Linked DNA regions of Homo sapiens. The protein of the gene in region 4 interacts with the protein of the main gene of each other region in a pairwise test. Each region holds a gene or a part of one and is shown on either strand. Other genes may lie near its edges.

What was found. The genes of interacting proteins can lie anywhere in the genome.
Region 1: the proteins of IGSF21 (region 4) and EPB41L3 interact in a two-hybrid assay, tested with the Homo sapiens proteins (one large-scale study listed by IntAct).
Region 2: the proteins of IGSF21 (region 4) and PCDHA4 interact in a two-hybrid assay, tested with the Homo sapiens proteins (one large-scale study listed by BioGRID and IntAct).
Region 3: the proteins of IGSF21 (region 4) and BTBD2 interact in a two-hybrid assay, tested with the Homo sapiens proteins (one large-scale study listed by BioGRID and IntAct).

What each region holds. Positions count from the first base shown.
Region 1 is NC_000018.10:5,393,998-5,397,497, forward strand, and holds part of EPB41L3 (band 4.1-like protein 3), read right to left. Parts: intron 3,430-3,500; coding exon 3,061-3,429; intron 2,336-3,060; coding exon 2,204-2,335; intron 1,711-2,203; coding exon 1,612-1,710; intron 1,151-1,611; coding exon 1,070-1,150; intron 797-1,069; coding exon 686-796; 3' UTR 680-685; intron 1-679. UniProt on the Homo sapiens protein: Tumor suppressor that inhibits cell proliferation and promotes apoptosis. Modulates the activity of protein arginine N-methyltransferases, including PRMT3 and PRMT5.
Region 2 is NC_000005.10:141,006,068-141,009,457, reverse strand, and holds part of PCDHA4 (protocadherin alpha-4 isoform 1 precursor), read right to left. Parts: intron 1-3,390. UniProt on the Homo sapiens protein: Calcium-dependent cell-adhesion protein involved in cells self-recognition and non-self discrimination. Thereby, it is involved in the establishment and maintenance of specific neuronal connections in the brain.
Region 3 is NC_000019.10:2,009,215-2,012,714, forward strand, and holds part of BTBD2 (BTB/POZ domain-containing protein 2), read right to left. Parts: intron 1-3,500.
Region 4 is NC_000001.11:18,114,298-18,117,797, forward strand, and holds part of IGSF21 (immunoglobulin superfamily member 21 precursor), read left to right. Parts: intron 1-3,500. UniProt on the Homo sapiens protein: Involved in synaptic inhibition in the brain. Selectively regulates inhibitory presynaptic differentiation through interacting with presynaptic NRXN2.

The DNA of each region.
Region 1 (3,500 bases), on a different chromosome or scaffold from region 4:
AAACAGTCACTGGAAAGGTATGTGCTTTCTACAGGACCACAAGACTGCATTTTTTTTGCCTCCTTCTGAGACAGTGCTACGCTAGGGAGAAAAATCATCCCAAAGAATACAGGAAATATAAGACATCCAAAAAGAAAGTGAGTGCTCAGCTTTCAAATTAAAAAAACAAAACTAAAGACAAAAGCATAAACAGGTTACAATCAAACACAGTTGAAGAGAAAGCTTACGACGGGATAATGTTGCCATCAGAAGGAGAAAGGGGTATATATTATTTCCCTAGTATTTGGAACACACAAATTGAGCCTCTCAGAGCAAAACTGCCTTTGTTCCAATTAGGCCACATGGCAAGTAAAATCAAATTTGCCATTACAAATTTGGATAATCAAAGAGTGCAGGCCATGGAATAAAAGGGAACACCAGGAAGACCACACAAGCATAGAAGCATAGACTCTGCTCTTCCTTTATCCTCTAACTGGCAGTGCATGCAAAAACTCCACAAGAATGGAAGCTCCAAATGTGAGACAAACCCATAAACCAATTCTCCATCCTCTTGGTAACCAGCCCAACAAATGCCAGTGAGAGAACAGAGGAAAGGAGGGATCAGGTGAAGGATGAGAGGGAAGTGCCCCATGCCTCATGCCAGCCTAGGCAAGCCTAGAGAATCGGCATCACCTCTTACCTCTGGTCAATCCTCTCCATCTTCTGGTGTGATCTCTGTCTCTTTATGGACCACTACTTTGGTCACTGACATGTCAGGGTGCTGCTCTTTGGCCTCTTTAATTGCCTGAGCCAGCGCCTATCCCCGGGAAATCACAGAAGGGCAGAAACAAAAAGGAGGTGGAACATGCATGATCAGTGGTGAGGTGGAGACTTATGAGCTAGATCTATATCCACAATTTACAAATGAGGTACAATGATTACAAAAGGAATCATAAATCATATATTGGAAAGTTAATTCGGAATTTTCTTCGGAATACATGCTGGACTAGAGGAATAGCATTGAAACTGTAGGACCAACAGGTTTTTCTTTGTTTCTCTGCCAGGGTATTTACCGTCTCACACACACTACCTGGTCATGGTCAATGTCTGCATCCCCCGTGATGACTATTCGCTTCTCAATTCTTGTCTCTGAAATGCCCCCTTTCACAGTCTGCAAGACACGTAGAGAAGCTTTATGAATTTACTCACTGGGAGAAACCATCATGGTTCAGTAGGGGGAAATGGCCGAAGATGCTGACATCATTCACTCTTCGAGAATTGAAATTAGAGTTCTATGGCACTTATTTCACATTTTTAATTCCAGAGGTGAGGACGGAATGGAGGCCCTTGGGTCTGGATGGCCCATGTTTCTGGAACACTACCACATGCCAAGCACTGGAGTAAGCATTAAGCTTAGGATATCAGAATGTATATTCCTAAAGGGGAACTCGCACGTGAGGACAAGTGCATCGTAAATCTAGGGGCTGTAAAAGCTCCCCTTGCAGCTATCCCGGCGTCCTGAGCTTCAAGCCACCTTGTGCTTGTGCAGCCCAACCTGTGAGGAGTTCTGAACAAGCACCTTCCTCCAGCTCGCTCTCAAGGAATCCTCTTCTCGGTTCTCACTCCACTTACTTTGGTGATGTGCGTAGTGGTGGTGGTACTGGTGGTTTCAGATGTGATCGTCTGTGCACTCATCAGCACGCCTGGCTCCAGATCTGTGCCTGGATCGACCTAAAGCAGCAGAGGCATAGACCCCTCATCCAGGTGCTCACATCTGCTCTTCAGAAGTTGGCTACGTTATTTAAGGCATTACGACAATTTCACTATCTCCTATTATGCAATCATTATGCTCTTCAGAGTCTGAGCGCTGCTCCCAAGAATAAGTACTAAGTGCAACCACAGGTAACTGTCATTAAAAAAACTAAGGTTTCAGAAATGTGAGTGGTGGATGGGTGAGTGAATATTTTTCTTTCTCTGTGGCTAGGGAAACAGGTTTCTGAGCCTTTTTCTACACTTCAAGACACATAAAGACTTGGTTAAGTCATCTGCTGCTCCCTGATCACTAATAAAATGACCATTATTGCATCACTTTTAATAGAAATGGTCTGGCTGCTGGATCCTCTAAGTCTCATGAATTAAATATCGTGCAGTTCTATGTAAACACACTAGGCCATAGAGGGGTGAAATAAGCAGCCAGGGCTCTGGTCTTCACAGAATATCTCACCTGTGATGATTCATATGTGATGGTTTTGGTTTCGGTGTGAACTACTGGCACTTCCTTCGTGGAAATTTCTAGCTTTACTCCTCCCGGTGAAACACTGCCAAAACTGATGGTTTCCGTCTTCACCGTTGAGGACTGTGCCAAAGGGGAGTAAGCAGAGTGGCTGTTATAGTTTGCATGAACACATTGTTTTCTTCCTTTTCCTCTCTTGGTGGTTATAAGCACAGGTTAGTATGCTATAAATGTTTATGTAGAGAGTAAGCTGGGGAATGAGGCATACAACATGCACATGTCAGTCTCCTGGACTCTCATAGCACTTTTATATGAAATGCTCCAAGTAAAGCAAAACATTTTGAAGGCAATAAAAAAAAGTTTTCTATTTAATAACTTCTTAGAAAGAAGAAACTAATAATGAGACATTAACTCCCCAAATACTTCAGGAATCTCAATAAAAGAGGATAAAGAATAAAGTTCTGGCATTTAGGACCCGGGTAAACATGGTTTTGGTGCTTCTGGAAAAGTGCACTGATAAGAAATAAATGTATCACATTTTCTAATATCTTGGCCAACTTTGCATTTCCCAATTTTACTGCCAATTATAATAATTTCAGTGAGAGTAGAAACCATTTCCTGGTGCCATATTATTAATAATTAAGAGATATGTTTGCATGTGACACCAAAGCTGGAAATCAGTGTGGAGACTCCTACTAGGTATGAAAGAAGGAAATGAGAGGAGAAATACACTATACATGGGAGAGGCAGAAAATTAAACTTAGCTCCACCTTTATGCTGATCTAAATTTCCAGGCATCCTATATCAGTTTTATTTTAGTGATAAAAGTAACATTTACTACTAGTTACCTCAAAATGAGGTTTTTGTTCCAAAGTTTCTGAAATGTGGATGGCTGCACTCTGCTCCTCTTGTCGCTCACGGGAAGCAGCGGCTGTCTCTTCCTGTTCCAGGACAGCTTTAGCGACCTCCTCCCCTCCTTCCTCTTTAGCCCCCTCCGTCAAGGCAGAGCCCTCTTTCCCTTTAATGCCTGTGAATGCGGGCTGTGCTGCAGCATCCCCGCTGTCTCCCGCCGAGTAAGAAGCATCCCCACTCGCGTGCACCACACGCCGCTCCTCCACCAACACGGTCTCCTGCACCACCTTCTCAGTGCTAAGCGGCAGGTGGTGCACGGTGGGTTCCGTCTCTATTCCACTGGACTCCGTCTTGGTTTCCATTTTCTGCATGGGAAGAGATTGTGGCATCAGTGTGACCATCCATAAACCAAAGGTCAGAAAATAACTAAAGCTGC
Region 2 (3,390 bases), on a different chromosome or scaffold from region 4:
TGTTTAATTTTTTTGAGACAGGATTTCCCTCTGTCACCCAGGCTGAAATGCAGTCACTGCAGCCTCGACCTCCTGTGCTCAATCAATCCTCCCATCTTAGCCTCCCAAGTAGCTGGAACTACAGGCACAAGCTCCCATGCCAGGCTAGCTTTTTAAAAAAAATTTTATAGAAATGGGATCTCACTATGTTGCCCAGGCTGGTCTCAAACACTGAAGCTCAAGAGATCCTCCCACCTTGGCCTCCCAAAGTGTTGGAATCATAGACATGAGCTACCACACCCAGCCAAGGCCAGTATTTACAGACAAGCAAGAGGGCAGGTTTTTTCACCAGGATACCAAGAATCTAGTTTCATAGTAACATATGTTTGGTTCTTTGTGAAGAATTTCCTAAAGAATACAGTTGTGATTATCTTGACTGGGAACGGGATGGGAAATACAGAGCCTAAAGGCAAAATATGCTCCTTTTAGTGTCTAGATTAAACTTTGGCTATAAATGTATTAGGATGTCTATTTTGTCCAAAACAAGAAAAATTAGCTGAATAAATTATTTGATCTTAATTTTATTGTAATAACATTGAAGGGTGGTGGGATGCAGCATGGAAGAGATGGGAATACACAGCGTAAGAGGATGGAATCCTGTTGTAAATTGAGCCTATTTGTTTAGATAAAACACTGGGAGCCAATTTTACTTTCCAAGCCAAATTCCTTCCCTCAGTGTGCTCACAGTCTAGTTGGACATACACTCAAGCAACTAGAAACCAACTTAATACATGCAATAACTAAAGTATATGTAAAGTATTGTGGGACTCCAGAAGAAGAAATTGTTAATTATACTTGAGAAAGTTAATGGGGTTCCAGAGGAGGTGAAATCTGCCCTGAGTCTTGGGAAAATGATTATGCATCCACAGGAGTTTTCAATAAAAGACATTCCCAAGAGTCTGATTGGAAGACACACCATAAAGTATACCAGTGACTTCTAGAAGAGTAGAAGTCAGAGCTGGAGAGGAAGGGTAATGGTCTGTCTGGGCAAAGTGATCCCAGTGGCCATGACATTGGAACTCTGACATCATAGCAATGTTTATGTATCTAACACTGCTCCTTTGGTTGACACGTGAAAAGCTCCATCAAATAAACTGTTTATGTTCAATTACAGTTTAGGGTTGGGTACAACTGCTATTTCAATTTCCTATTACTTCTCAGTCTCCTCTAATTTGGTGTCCCTGAGCAGTAATTTTCTAACATAACTCATGTCAAGTTCATTATATTACTTCCACAATCAATGGTCACATTTTAGTCCTCATCTTATCAAACCTCTCAGCAGCATTTGTCATCCCCTTCTTGAAACACTTATTCTCATGAGTTCTTTGTCATGTAGAATAACCCCAATAAGTTCTTAGATGGACTGGACCCCTGTTACAAAAGGCAGATTAACAAGAAAAAAAAGGAAACAGAAGTTTATTAACATGTACATTTCATATATACATGACAGACACCCAGAGAATGAGCAGTTCTCAAAAAGGTGGCTTAGAATTCCAGCTTATATAGCATCTTCAACAAAGAACAATAAATTTTTAAAGAAGTGTAAGACAAAGGAAAAGACCTTTAAGGACTTTGAGTCTCTAATGGGTAGCTACTTGGGGGAAGGCAAATGAATGGCAGATAAAGGCTAATTTGTAAAGCAGTACCATTTCCAGGCCAATAAGAGTCCAAAGTTATCTTCAGTGGTTAACCTTTGTTCTCCCTGGTGGTGGGAGGCAGAGGAGGGAGGTGGAAGTAGGATAACTTTTGTCTTTGTAAATTTATGGTTTTTTAGGCAAATACAGGGAGGGCAGAAGACCTCTCCTATATCTGCTTCTTTTATTATTATCATGATTATTATTTTTTAAATTTGAGATAGAGCCTTGCTCTGTTGCCCAAGCTGGAGTGCAGTGGCGAGATATCAGCTCACTGCAGTCTCTGCCTCCTAGGTCCAAGTAATTCTCGTGCCTCAGCCTCCTGAGTAGCTGGGACTACAGGCACATGCCACCATGCCTGGCTAATTTTTTTTTTTTTTTTTTTTTTTGTATTTTAGTAGAGATGGTGTTCCATCATGTTGCCCAGGCTGGTCTCGAACTCCTGAGCTCAGGCAATCTGTCCACTTTAGCCTCCCAAAATGCTAAGATTACAGGCATGAGCCCACTGCACCCAGCCTGTATCTGCTTCTTTTAACTTGCCTTCAGCTCAACAATCCTTCTTATTTTGGGACAGCATATTCTGGCCCCCACCATCAAAACATTCTCCTGACCTTTCTCTCTGACTGTTCTTTGACAGTTTCCTTTGTCAGTCTCCTCATCTGTGTGTTGAAGCTTCCTTGGGTTTGGCCCTAGACTCTCTTCTCTATTTTCTCTTCACTCTCTCCTTTTGGGATCTCAGCCATATCCATAGATATAAATACCATATGAATAAGCTGATGAGATGCAGACTTATATTTTAAGCCCACATCTCTCTGTGCTCCAATCTCATGTATAACTGCCTATCTGGTATCCCCAGTTGGAAATCTCATGGGCATCCCAAACTGAAGAAATCTGAAATCAAACTCTTGATTCCTCGAATCTATTCCTTTCTAAATCTTTCCAGTTTCAGTAAATTACACCCCATTTACCCCATTTCTCAAGCCAGAAAGTTCAAAGCTAATTATTCATTTTTCTCTATTCTATTCTTCATTCTCCATTTATAATACATCATCAAGACCTGTCATTTCTGCCTCCTAAATATATCTTGACTCTGTCCTCTTCTCCCAATTTTCACTGCCACCACTCTTTCAGGACACCATCATCTCTTATATGAATTGCAGCAATAGTCTCCTTATTCAGTCTGCTTCCACTTTTGCTTCTCTCCAACCCTCCACACAGTAGCCAGAGTCATCTTTATTTCTTAATGTCTCTCTTTAAAAACTGATGTATAACAGCCAGGCGCGGTGGCTCACACATGTAATCCCAGCACTTTGGGAGGCCGAGACAGGCAGATCTCGAGGTCAGGAGATTGAGACCATCCTGGCTAACACAGTGAAACCGCGTCTCTACTAAAAAATAGAAAAAACTTAGCCGGGCGTGGTGGTGGGCGCCTATAGTCCCAGCTACTCAGGAGGCTGAGGCAGGAGAATGGCATGAACCCGGGAAGTGGAGCTTGCAGTGAGCTGAGATCGTGCCACTGCAGTCCAGCCTGGGCAACAGAGCAAGACTCCATCTAAAAATAAAAAATTTAAAAAAAAATGAGGCATAACATACATATAGCAAACTCTTTTAAAAATATAAATCAGATTATATCACTCCTCTGCTTAAGCTTTCTACTGCCTTGAGAAAAAAAAAAAAAACTCCTTACCATGATACATAAGTCCCTTCAATAATCTGA
Region 3 (3,500 bases), on a different chromosome or scaffold from region 4:
TTGAGGCGGAGTCTCAGTCTGTCACCCAGGTTGGAGTGTGGTGGCGTGATCTTGGCTCACTGCAACCTCCGCCTCCCGGGTTCAAGCAATTCTCCTGCCTCAGCCTCCCAAGTAGCTGGGATTACAGGTGCCCACCGCCACACCAGGCTAATTTTTTGTATTTTTAGTAGAGACGGGGTTTCACCATGTTGTCCAGGCTGGTCTCAAATTCCTGACCTCGTGATCCGCCTGACTCGGCCTCCCAAAGTGCTGGGATTACAGGCGTGAGCCACCACACCCACCCAGATTGTTCTACTTCTAGACCTCGCTACAATGCTGACAGTTCCATGATAGAGTGAATAAAGATACGTTAGGCTGGGCGCGGTGGCTCACACCTGGAATCCCAGCACTTTGGGAGGCCGAGGTGGGTGGATCACCTGAGCTCAGGAGTTCACCATCACCCTGGGCAACATGACGGAAATACTGTCTCTACTAAAAATACAAAAATTAGCTGGGCGTGGTGGCGCACACCTGTAATCCCAGCTACTCAGAAGGCTGAGACAGGAGAATTGCTTGAGCCAGGGAGCTGAAGGCTGCAGCATGCGGAGATCACGCCACTGTACCCCAGCCTGGGCAATAGAGCAAGATTCTGTCTCAAAAAAACAAAAAAGGAGGGGAGGCCAGGTGCGGTGGCTCACGCCTGTAATCCCAGCACTTTGGGAGGCCGAGGTGGGCGGATCACCTGAGGTCGGGAGTTTGAGACTAGCCCGGCTAACATGGTGAAACCCCGTCTCTACTAAAAAATACAATTAGCCAAGTGTGGTGGCGGGTGCCTGTAGTCCCAGCTACTCGGGAGGCTGAGGCAGGAGAATGGCATGAACCTGGGAGGCGGAGCTTGCAGTGAGCGGAGATCGCGCCACTGGACTCCAGCCTGGGCAACAGAGCGAGACTCCGTCTCAAAAAAAAGAAAAAGGTATTTTAGATACTAACTTCATGGGACCAGCCAATGTGCACATCTACAAAAGTGCAACCCTGGAGATCTTCAGTTCTCCCTTCAAGCCCCATGAGAGAATCAGATGTTTAATTCCCACAGATCATTCAATGCACAATCACTGCGTGCCTACTGTGTGCCAGGCTCCAGCGCGCTGAGATGGACGGGTGCCCATCCAGGACCGGGGAACAGCCCAGAAGCCGCGTGCAACCCCTGGCCTCCTCCCCAGCACAAACGCCGACCCCTGCGCGACGGTCCAGACACTGGGGCCACCACCAAGGCCTGCTCCCAGCCTCCTCTCTGCCATGTCTCAGCTCACCCTGCACCCCCGCCAGGGACCAGGCCCAAGCCCAGGCCACTTGCTCTCCTCACAGCTGGCAAGGCCCGGCCCCTCTCTGCTCATCGGTGAACTCCAGACTTTATCCCAGCACCCCCAGTTCGTCCCGACATCCCCCCACCTTTTTTTTTTTTTTGAGACGGAGTCTCGCCCTGTCACCCAGGCTGGAGTGCAGTGGCGCAATCTTGGCTCACTGCAATTTCTGCCTTCCGGATTCAAGCCATCCTCCTGCCTCAGACTCTGAGTAGCTGGGATTACAGGTGCGTGCCACCGCGCCCAGCTTATTTGTGTATTTTTAGTAGAGACGGGGTTTTGCCACGATGGCCAGGCTGGTCTCAAACCCCTGACCTCAGATGTCTGCCCATCTCGGCCTCCCGAAGTGCTGGGATGATAGGCGTGAGCCACTGCGCCCGGCCTCAGCTGCTGTTTTCTTTCTCTCTGCTGTGTGGCCTGTGGCTGTCAGCAACCCATCGGGTCCGTTTGTTCCCACAGCCCCAGGACAGATGTGTCTGAGTGACCTTGTTTCAATCATGGAAACTGAGGCACAGAGCACTTGGGACACACTGCTCTGCGGACCTCTCAGCCCCAGGTCCCGCCAACACATCCAAGCCAGTACTTGTCCCTCCTGAGCCTGTCCTGGCTTGTGATGCTCCAGCCAGAAGTCTGGGGACCCCCACCACAGCCCCCCACGCCCTCACCTGCCAAGCTGCCTCCTCTCCTGGCCACAGGAACTCGCTTCCTCCAAAGAGGACCTGCATCCTCTACCCCTCATTTCTGCCGTCCCCACCGAGCCCGCTGCTGTCTCCTGCCTGGAGTCTGCAGCTGCTACTCCCCAGCCTCGCTCCTGGGCCCATCCACGGCGCGTTCCACCCTCAATGCGGATCTGGTCACACTGGGCCACAGGGCCTCCCTCACTCCTCCTGCTCCGGCCTTGCCATGGCTCCCACCTGCCCAGCCCCTCTGGGCTCTGGGCCTTCCATCCCTGAGCCTGGGGCACTGCACTCTCCATCAACATCACTTGCTCAGGGGGTCGTTCTGGACCAGGTCAGTGCCCCCTCTCCATTTTCAACCCTCCTGAAATGCTAAGGAAACACAGATGACCTTTCAACAAGGCAGGCTTCAACTGCACAGGTCCACTCATATGTGAATTTTTTCAATAAAGGCTGCCCCAACGGTGCCGGCCTCTCCTGCCTCCCCTTCCACCTCTGCCACCCCGGAGACAGACCCACCCTCCTGCTCCTGCTCCTCAGCCCTCAATATGAACACAAGGACACAGGCCTTCATCGTGGCCACCTCCACTGTGTGAACAGCAAACAGGATTTCTCCTTTTATTTTTTTTCCTTTTTTTTTTGAGACAGAGTCTTGCTCTGTCGCCCAGGCTGGAGTGCAGTAGCGCAACCTCGGCTCACTGCAACCTCCGCCTCCCGGGTTCAAGTGATTCTCCTGCCTCAGCCTCCCAAGTAGCTGGGACTACAGTTGTGCACCACCACACCCGGCTAATTTTTTGTATTTTTAGTAGAGACGGTGTTTCACCACGTTGGCCAGGATGGTCTCAAACTCCTGACCTCATGATTCGCCCGCCTCGGCCTCCCAAAGTGCTGGGATTACAGGCGTGAGCCACCGCGCCCAGCCTGTCCTTTATTTTTTTTGAGATGGTGTGTCACTGTGTCGCCTGGGCTGGAGTGCAATGGCGCAATCTCGGTTCCCTGCAACCTCCACCTCCTGGGTTCACGAGATTCTCCTGCCTCAGCCTCCTGAGTAGCTGGGATTACAGGTGTGCGCCACCACGCCCGGCTAATTTTTGTATTTTTGTAGAGACAGGGTTTCACCGTGTTGACCAGGCTGGTCTCGATCTCCCGACCTCGTGATCTGCCCGCCTCGGCCTCCCAAAGTGCTGGGATTCCAGGCGTGCGCCCCCGCACCCGGCCCCTTAGACTTTTCTGAATGTATTTTCTGTTCTCCAGCCTGTTATTGTGAGAACAGGAGGCTGGTGTGCATTGACCAAGTGTCCTCACAAGGCCTCCGGTCAGCGAGAAGCCATTCCTAGTTAAGTTCGTGGGAGTCAAAAGTTGTACTTGGATTTGAGCTGAGTGGGGGTCCACGCCCCTAACCCCGCATGTCGAGGGTCCGCTGTCCCAGGCCCGCCCACCTTACCTTGCTGCTATCTCCCGCTGGGCCTCATTGCCCTCTCCT
Region 4 (3,500 bases):
CCACCCAGGCAGGGACCCCATCTGGTTCTGTTCACTGTTGAGTCCTCCACAAAACACATAGCAGGTGCTCAGTCAGGTTGTTTGTTTGGGTGATTAGGCTACCTCTGGCCTTGCGACATGTGCAACCTGGTTTTGAAAAAGACTGAGCATGTGGCTTTCTATTTCTATGGAAAATTGTGTGAAAAGGCTTATAGCATGTGGAATTGAGGCTGGACTTGCAGGTGGACTTCCTGGCAGCAAAGATGTTCTGATCCTGGAACTACATTCTTTCTTTCTGCAGTTTCTCAGATAAAGTAGCAGAGGCCCTGACTAGATATCTTAACTCTCTACCTGCTGGCAGTACTTGAAAATGCACAAAACACTTCCACGCCCATTATTCCATTTAGACCTCACATCACACAGGGAGACAGCTAGTCTTGTACCTGTTGAACAGATGAGGGAAAATGAGGCCCAGGAAGATGAAAGGATGGCAGTAGGCAGTGGCTGGACTGGAACCCAGATTCTGTGGTTGCGAGCTCAGCCTTCCTCCCATCCTCAACCCATTGCTGGACTTCATTTAGCCACAGGGGTCTGGCATGAGACAGGTCAGTTTCCCATGTGCTTACAGGCCAGTAAGCTTTGACCTCAAGTGTGCACTGTGAGCTGTGTGCTGCTGTAGCCACTTTGCTGCTGTGACTTCCTCTATCCTCCACTGCTGTCCAGGTGGGTGTTATATCCCCAGTCCACAGGTGAGGACACTGACATGCCCAGGGTCACACAGCTTGAGACAAGAGCTCACTGTCTCCCCTGTCTCCACAGTCTTGTCCTGCTCAGAGATTTCTGGCCTTAGCTTCTCCATCCTCCACCTCCTCCCCCACTTCCGCCCTTTCTTGGCTCAGAGAGCAGACATCTGCCCTCAGCTAGCACAGTCCCTGGCTCCCCATAAGGCTTTCTCCAAGTTTCTGCTCACCCACATCCTCCCTCCACAGCCCCCCACCACACACACACAGACTCAGGTGTGCCCTAAGCATGTTGGCAGCAGTACTTTTGGCAACACTTTGAAAGCAGCCCTCCTTGGGGCTGGAGATCGTTGGGGATAGTCTCCCTCCTGAACAGAGCTATTGAGGGTGAGCATCTCTGCACCCTCGGCCCTGGCACCAGGCCTGGCTCTGAGCACATAGATCCTGAAGATGTGTTTGTTGAATGAATGAATGATGTCTCCCCTGAGCCTGAGGTTTGGTTCAAACACCAGACCCAGGCTTGTTTCCTGGCCCTGCTCAGTTGCCTCTGGAAGTCCTTTCTGGTGTGAGAATGTGTCCATTGTCCTTCTCCATTCCATGGACCACAGTGGCATCACAGCTGGCATCTGGAGGAAGGGCCAACACTGCAAGGTGATGGGAAGACCAAGGGGACTTCGTGTCCCCTCTATGTTCTCCTTGGAGAGGGGACTGTCCTAGATGGGTGATGGGGATTTGGGAAGGTAAAGAAAGAAGGAAGGAGGGAGGAAAGGAAGGAAAAAGGTTGAGAAGGGAGGGAGGAAGACAGGAAGGAAGGAAGGAAGGAAGGAAGAAAGAAAGAAAGAAAGAAAGAAAGAAAGAAAGAAAGAAAGAAAGAAAGAAAGAAAGAAGGAGAGGGAGGGAGGGAGGGAGGGAGGAGCAAGCATTCACCGAGCAGCTACTATGTGCCAAACCCTGTGCCAGACATGTTCACACATAACATCATACTCAACTATCCCAGAAATGCCTGTTTGGGAGATAATATTCTCCCCCTTTACAGATGAGTAAAGAGGCTTGGAGAGATTGTGTGACTTGCCTGAGTGAGGGGCAGAGCCAGATTCACACCCAGGCATTGATTTGCACATCTCTTCCCAAATCTGAGTTTCTCCCATTGGTAGCTTGAAATAGACCATTACTGGAGTATTCACACAATGGAAATCGGCAAACTATACATTGGGGCCTCCCTCACCCGAGAATTGGTTGTTACACACTTGCCAGCACATCCCTGGGTATGCCCATCCTTCCTAATCCCTCCCTGTCTCTGTGGGGCAGCCACCTGCGGTTAATGTGCTTTGGTTTCCATCTGCAATGGGCTCCTGTTGTCCACCACTTCCTAACAAAGTATCCTTGGGCAAGACACTCGCTGTCTGAGTCATAGTTTCCCTGTCTTTTAAAAATGGAGGGTGAGTGAGATACAGCAATAACACATGAGAGCTTTTGGCATGTAACTGGCCTCTCCCTTCCTCCTGATGGGGCCAGCAGGCCATGGAGACTCTGAGGAGAGTGGGGTCACTGTTTCTTCTCCCTCTGCTGGAGCTGCTTTGGGCGAGAAGTCCACGATCCAGTCACTTCCATTAATTAAGCAGCTGCCCCAGGCCTGATTCTGGACTGACAGAGACCTCTCGGGGAGTTTCAGGTTGTGGGCAATCCCACATTCATTGAGAACAATTAAAAATCACATGTAATCAAATGGCCAATACAGGGCTTGAACCAAGCTTATGTCTTTGGGGATTAAAGGGAGTGGCCCAGGAAGGCTCTGAAGGATTGAAACAATCTTGCCAGGTCAGGAGTGGTTTCCAGGCAGGAGAAACAGCACATGCAAAGGGCTGGGGAAGAGAGGGGAATGCCATCTGGGCAAGTGAGGGTTGGAGCTATGAGGCTCCTGGCCTTGCTTAAGTGCAGGTCCTGGTTGAGAAGCTGGGGAGGAGGATGGAGGAGTTGGCAGAGACCTGCCTGCTAGGAAAGCGGTCTGGATTTGAGCCCATGGGCTGAGGGGAATGGTTTAAAAGAGTGGAGTGGCATTCCCAGAGCAGGGCTCTAGGAAGATTAATTTGGCTTTTCTGGGCCACCTGAAGCTGGAAGCTCTTTTGAACCTCCACTGGGTTATAAATGGTTGCTCTGGGTTGCCCAAAGAAACGATGGACTCCAGAAAGAAATGCCATCGTTTGGAGATGGCCCACTTCTCCCAGCACATCCTGACCCAGTGAGGAGGGAAAGCCAGGCCCTTGCCCAGGCCCTACCAAGATTGCACAGCCTTGAATGAGACTGCCCCAGCCTGAGTGTGTACCTTGGGCTTGACCCAAGAGTGAAGGGAGGAGGAGCGCGGTCCTGGGGAGAAGCTTCTAGATCTCCAATGGGCATGGGCTTTGTAGTCTAACCAGCTTTCAGATTCCACCTCCACCACTTGTCCAATTTGTGGACTCAAGTAACCTCTTCATTATTTTACCCTTGGTTTCTTCAACCGCACTTGTCACTCTTCATGGTGGCCTCGTCTGGTGGGGGCTGCTGGGAAGCGTGAATGGATAATACCAGGAGGCCATATGCACAGTGGCTAGCATACAGCAGGTGTTTGAAAAGTGGTTGCTCCCTTGATGATGTTTGGCTCCCCACCATGTGGTAGGAGCACCCTCCAGGTTTGAAGGGAAAGAAGTGTTTATAACCCTTGATTCCCAGGAGGAGAGGATGCATGGCAGGTTTCCCCATGTGGATCACTGGAAGAACCTTTGGGTTTGGAATTACAGAGCA